Linked DNA regions of Homo sapiens. The protein of the gene in region 2 purifies or fractionates together with the protein of the main gene of each other region. This does not show direct contact. Each region holds a gene or a part of one and is shown on either strand. Other genes may lie near its edges.

The links. The genes of interacting proteins can lie anywhere in the genome.
Region 1: the proteins of GLT6D1 (region 2) and GLB1L2 purify together in Homo sapiens (affinity purification with mass spectrometry; one large-scale study listed by BioGRID and IntAct). This does not show direct contact.

What each region holds. Positions count from the first base shown.
Region 1 is NC_000011.10:134,338,488-134,341,987, forward strand, and holds part of GLB1L2 (beta-galactosidase-1-like protein 2 isoform b precursor), read left to right. Parts: intron 1-3,500.
Region 2 is NC_000009.12:135,633,041-135,636,540, forward strand, and holds part of GLT6D1 (putative glycosyltransferase 6 domain-containing protein 1), read right to left. Parts: intron 1-3,500.

The sequences.
Region 1 (3,500 bases), on a different chromosome or scaffold from region 2:
CCATCCACTCACATCCGGGAGCACTTTTTACTACACCTGGAATCTCCTGCCTGCTGGGGCCTGCCCTGTACCCTTCATCCTCAGGACCCACCTCACCAGTCAAGGAAAAATTACTCCAGAGGGCTCCACCTCCCCCTGCTTCCTCACCACGGGGCACAGCAGAACTTGGTACCTATGTCCTCTGCTTCAGGTTTCCATTGCAACCAATTTTTGTGTCTGCAGCTTGCCCAGCCTTCAGCACGAATAGTGCATGCCCCTTTTCCACTTGCCAAAAGGGAACTGGTGAGGATGGGCTGTAGAGGTCTTGTTAGGTTGTGCGCGGCCCCATCAGAAGTCCTGATGTGCCTGCCTTCCTCCAGGAACCCCACCTTGGACCATGACCATGGCCACCCTCTCCATCCAGGTGGAGGAGCGGAGCCTGACTCTGAGCAGAGCAGACCTGGGCACTGAGCACTGAGTTCAGGGTTTGCTGTCCGGACTCTTCTAAGGTGGAAAAATCGCTTTGGATAAATGAAGCCGAGATACATAGGCAACAGGAATCCTAGCAGAAAGTGTTAACATAAGCTCCAGTTCAAAAGAAGGCAGGTGTTCCTGGTTTCATCAGATAAAGGTCCATCGTGGATGAACTGCTCCCCAAGAAAAGTGACAGAAACACGCTGGGCTTCCTTAGGATTTGGTTAGCTGCTTGGTATCAAGCCTAATTTAGGAGTAAAGTCTTGCTGACCTTTAAACCAACCAACTCCAACCACACTGTTGATATTTCCTTTATTTTATTATTACTGAGTTACTCAGGAAATTATGGGGTTATTCTCCGTCTTATGATTATTAGTATTAATGATCATTATCAGTGTTAATAGCCATTTACATGATGCTTCGTTGTTTATGAAGCTGTAACTCGCATGGTCTCATTTACTAGCAGTGAATTCCTTGGAGAAACCCAACACGTATCATCCTCATTTTCTTGGTGAATCCATCCCTTTTAATAAGGTATTGACAACTTCTCTAGTAACCTACCAGAAAATTCCCATGAAGAAACAGTTGAATTCACCAGAATTTGGAATTGGATAACAGCTAGATTGTTTTTTATTCTTGTTGTTTATTTCATTCCTCTTGCTATGCACTGAGAAGAACGTTTCATTCTAAAAATATAGAAAATGGTGTGTTATAAAGACACTAGCAAAGACAAGCTCTATCCAGGGAGGGAGTCTACGTAGTGTCCAAGGAGAAGACGCAGATTGGGCTTCTCGAGCTGTAACCTTGGGATTGGTTAGAATGCAGATTTTGATTCAGTAGGTCTCAAGTAAGGCTTAAGGTTTATGCATTTCTGACAAGCTGCGGATGAAGACCTGGAAATCTGGTTGGTGGATAGAAGTTGTTGAATTGGGATGCCTCTTTCCAGGTGTCTGCACTTTGAGTCAGGCGGCTGTGACCCTGAGGGAGTTCAGAGGTGTGGCTGTCTATAGACCACACCTGGAGAAGTCAGCCTAGAGGGAGGTTTCCTGATCCTTAGTCATCAACTAATCAAGGGGAGAGGTTAAAGGTGTTGGTTCCTAGCAGGGACTGTGTTGGAATGTCGGTCAGAGAGGCTTCTCCAACCCTGCCTACACCTCTGCATTTAGCAGGGTGGGGAGTGGAGGCTCTCGCACCCATAAGTAGATGTTAGGATAAGTAATGTGTGCTTTAATAAGAATTGGAGATTGTGCTTTTGAAGTTCTGGCTGGAGAATAAGGTTTGGTACCTGGTGGAATGATTGCTAAGTTGTATTGTCACTGTCTTTAAAAACAGTGATATTTTGTGTGTGTGTGCATGTGCATGTGTGTGTGTATTTTCACCACCAGGTTGTCAAAATGCCCCTGTTTTTAAGAAAATAATCTGTCCATCCAGTTCTTCCTCATTCTGGCCTGGGGTGAGCCCAGCATGTGCCTCTGAGGGAACCAGGGGGAGAACCTGTGTTGCGGCGGGCAGGTGAGTCTGGTGAGTACCTGAGGCAGGGAGGGCTGAGCAGGTGGCAGGGTGTGTGCTTTGGAGCAGGTGTGGCCTGAGCAGTTGTGAGCCTGTAGCCAAAGCAAAGCGCCTGGTGAGCAGAGCAGGGGGCACCAAAAGAAGGCCCGGACGGTGGCCCAGAGGGGCCGAGGCCTTGTCTTAGCACTCCAGGGCTTCATCTGCAAGGATGTGGGCCAGCAGAGTTTCTGGGAGAGGGCAGATCGCACATATTTTCAGCTTTGCAGGCCACGCAGTCTATCGCAAGTACTCAACTGCAAAAAGCCATTCGTAGATGGTGTGGCTGTGTGCCAATACAATGATTTATGAACACTGAAGTTCATATAATTTTTTATGTGTCCCAAAATATTATGCTTTTGATTTTTTTCCAACCACTTAAAAATGTGAAAGCTATCCTCAGCTTGCAGGCTGCACAAAGACAGATGGCAGGCTGGATTTGACCCGAGGCCCAAGTTGGCCCACCTCTGGCCTACAGGCTGTGTTGGTCTAATAGGATCTCAGTGTACAGAATCTTTCATTGTCAAATTTTAGAAATTGTCATAAGATGGCTTGGCACAAAGTCTAGCACATAAGCTATATACCACCATGGGGAGAATGGAGAAGTTGGGATTATTCCACATTAGGGACATAAAACCCACTTGTGGCTATTCTCTCTAAAGCTTTCTCTTTGGAGAAAAAAGTGTGGTGAATAGGTTCCCATAACTCTCTAATACGCAAACACATGCTACAATAAATTGATTTCAGATAGAGATAAGACCCTTCGACTCACAGCAGAGAGTGTTGCATTTCTCCGGGACCCTCACAGCAGCCTTTCTGAGCAGTTGGGAGAGGCATTAGACTCGTTTTATAGAGGAAGAAGCTCCTGCCCACAGAACTGGTGTCACTAACCCAAGGCGACAGTTCTACCAAGCTGGGGGCCAGGATTCACATCCGGATCTTCCTATTCCAGCTAGCGTTTTTGCTGTCACTGTCTCATACAGTCCTTTGGAAGAACTGTGTCCTAAAATGTCATTTGCAAGCCATTTACTAGAACATGGAAGTTTTCTCTTTAGAAAAAGAAAAATGTGGTGAACAGATTCCCAGGTTGCCCAAGATGAGATGACCCTTTCATCTGTAACACAGCAGAACCATAGTCCTGGAGCTTCGGTGTGAGTTCTAAGGCCCTGGGGCTGTGAGAAGTAGGAAGGAGTAGGTAAAAAAGCAAATTTCTTTGCCTGAGAGTGGCCCCAGACAAAATTCCCAAGAGGCTGGCGATGTCCGAGCTGTCTTCTGCCCTGTGGGCACCCTGCCCCCTCCCCGTCTCTGGCCATCTGGGCCCTCTCGCTTGTTCCCTCCCTCTGTGACACTCAGCTGAGGGGCGTCTTGTGCAGTGGGGCCCGGCTGGCCACCGCCTGCTAGTGTCAGGGCAGGAGCGAGCGCCGGTGGGGACGAAGGCACAGCCCACACCGGCTCCTGCCCCGGACTCAGCCACCCAGCACCGGCTCCTGCCCCGGACTCAG
Region 2 (3,500 bases):
ACACATACACGTGCATTACATACAAATCAGCCTACACATACGCAGACAGTGGTGTCTTCAGGGATTAGAGCTGTCTTTGGTTTGCCGTTTCCCCTGCCTCTCTTGCCATTAGTACCCAGTTGACCCCCTCCAGCCTTGCTTTGCAGTTTGTGGAATATTTAGACAACAAATATTCTCGCCGGCTGAGATGACTTTTCTACTTTTATTTTTATTTTTATCTTTATTTTGAGAGGCAGTCTTGCTCTGTCTCCCAGGCTGGAGTGCAGTGGTATGATCTCAACTCACTGCAACCTCCACCTCCCGGGTTTAAGCAATTCTCCTGCTTCAGCCTCCTGAGTAGCCCAGATTACAGGTGCCCACTGCCACGCCTGGCTAATGTTTTTTTAATATTTTTTATTTTTGTATTTTAGTAGACACGGGGCCAGGCTGGTCTCAAACTCCTGACTTCAGGTGATCTGCCCACCTCGGCCTCCCAAAGTGCTGGGACTACAGGTATGAGCTACCACACCTGGCCTGAGATTCCTTTTCTATAGAGGAGTTTGCTAGACAAAACACAGGACATCTCTTCAGTTTAAGATAAGCAATGAATAAATTTTTAGTGTAACTATTGCATAGGACATACTTCTGCTAAAAAAGATTCACTGTTTCCCTGAAATTCAAATGTTACTGAGCATCCTGTATGTTTATTTCCTAAATGGATCAACCCAACCAGTGAATAACTCCTTATTCTTTAAATAAATGAAAAAAAAATCATTCAAGTTTTAAATTTGAACAAAGACCCATTGCAATTTCAACAACAAAATATCTAGAATCAAGATCCATTTATTTATGCATTTCTTACCAAATAATGAGTGAGCACCTCCTACATGCCAGGCCCCTGGCTGTGGTTCCGGGGTAGATGGTAGAATCCGTGCCATGGATTAGCGTATGGGTCCCTGTCCCCTTTCTGCTGAAGATTACTCCATCATTATCCTCAAACAGAGCATCTGAAACTCTTTATAACTGGCCATGCATCCTTTTCATTAAGGTACAATCCTCCAGGAGGACAAATGACACAAAATACATGGCACCAAAGCAGTGGGGGTGGTCATTTTGTTTTGCTTTTTGAGACAGAGTCTCACTCTGTCTCCCAGGCTGGAGTGCAGTGGTGCGATTTCAGCTCACTGCAACCTCCGCCTCCCAGATTCAAGCTATTCTCCTGCCTCAGACTCCCAAGTAGCTGAGATTACAGGTGCCCACCACCATACCCTGCTAATTCTGGTGTTTTTAGAAGAGACAGGATTTTGCCATGTCAGCCAGCTGGTCTCCAACTCCTGACCTCAAGTGATCCGCCCGCCTCTGCCTCCCAAAGTGCTGGAATTACAGGCGTAAGCCACCATGCCTGGCCTTGTTTTTCCTTTCCTTTTTTTTTTTTTTTTTTTTTTGGCATGATTTATTTTTACTTTATTTCCCCTTTTTTGTTTCAATCAACTTTATTTTTAGAGAAGATTCAGCTTTACAAAAACGTTCTAAAGCTAGTATGCGGAATCCCCTGCACCAACCCAGTTTTTCCTATTATTAACATCTAGCTTTAGTAGGGTACTTTTGTTCCAATTCATGAAGCAACACTGATGCTGTATTGTTAACGAGAGTCCATACTTTGGTTGGATTTTCTTGTTTTCCCCTAATGTCTCTTTTTTTTTCAGGATCCCACCCAGCATGCCACACTCCACTCAGCCTCCTGTCTGGATCCCACCCAGCACGCCACACTCCACTCAGCCTCCTGTCTGCACAGGATCCTCTTGACTGCAGCCGCCTCTCAGACCCCATCATGACTTCCTATTGATGCTGACCTTGTTCACCTGGCTAGGGTTCTGTTTTCGGGCTTCTCCACGCAAAGACTGCTCTTTCTCCCCGTTTTCTTTATAAGAAAGCGCTGCGCGCAACCCAAACTTCAGGACTGGGGCGTCAGGTTCTGTGTCGTTGGTAGTGGAGAATCTACAGACATGATTTGGAATTCTTCTGCATATGGGAGATTTGTCTCTTCTCCCTTCTTCCTTCCTTCTATCCTTCCAACATCCAGCCAACCTGTCTTCCTTCCTTTCTTCCTTCTTTTTGCTCCTCCAATCATTCATTTACATCAGTATGAACTTGTGGAAGTTCGTTTCATACTTTGGGTTATAATTCAATGTTACTTTCTTTTCTTGCTCAAAAGGCTTCAGCTTTGGCCATCGGGAGCTCTCCCAGTTAGCTCCCATGTCCCATTTAAGTGACATACTCCCTTCAATATAGAATTTGTAAAAAAAATCCCTTCCATCCCTCCTGGCACTATGAGATGCTCTGGGCTCATCTTGTAAATCTCCTGTCCGAATCTAGAACCATCCACTTCTCCAAGAAGCCTTGGTCGCTTTCCTGGAGAATGGTGCCAGAAACCAAGATCTGTTGCTTTCCTGGAGAATGGTGCTAGAAACTAAGGTCTGCTGCTTTCCTGGAGAATGGTGCTAGAAACAAGATCTGTTGCTTTCCTGGAGAATGGTGCTAGAAACCAAGATCTGTTGCTTTCCTGGAGAATGGTGCTAGAAACCACGATCTGCTGCTTTCCTGGAGAATGGTGCTAGAAGCCAAGATCTGGGTACCAGGTGTGCTCATTGCTTCCAGGGTGTCCTTCCTCCGAGGCCCTCTCAGCTAACAGAGCAAGGAAATAGACACTAACCTGTGCGTATTTCCACATATCTTTAAACACGTTGACACGTAAATGTCTCTGTTCATAGTAAGGTAAACGTGAGTTCACGCTGAGGTCTCCAGCTTCAATCCATTCCCACGTGGATCACTGTGGCCCCCTCTCTTGCTTAACTATGAAGTTCCCTCCAACAGCAAGAAACTTGCTCCCCCATGCCTCATCCATTTATTTAATTGATTCAAATATACATGTATAGCAGCAGCAGAATTGTTAACTCATATTCCTGTGGGAAAAAACCTTTATTGACCCAAATACATGTACAGTGCTCATGTACAGTTTCTATTGCCTTTACTTTCAAACTCCACTCATACCCAGCTGGGCACTGTGGCTCACACCTGTAATCCCAGAATTTTGGGAGGCTGTGGCAGGCGGATCACCTGAGGTCAGGAGTTTGAGACCAGCCTGGCCAACATGGTGAAACCCCATATCTACTAAAAATAAAAAATTAGCCATGCCTGGTGGCATGTGCCTGTAGTCCCAGCTACTAGGGAGGCTGAGGCAGGAGAATCGCTTGAACCAAGGAGGCAGAAGTTGTGGTGAGTTGAGATCGCTCTACTGCACTCCAGTCAGGGTGACAGAGTGAGACTCTGTCTCAAAACAAAACAAAACAAAAAAAACTCCACTCATTCCTAAGTTATTTTAGGTCAGCAGCTTTTTCCCTGACCCCTTCCAGTGGGATTGTTCTGTACATTTGGGATATAGATTATGTTCTCACAGTCTGCATTGCTTCCTAGGATACCTCGAACCTCCTAGCTAATTTTTTAAATTTACATATGTTAAT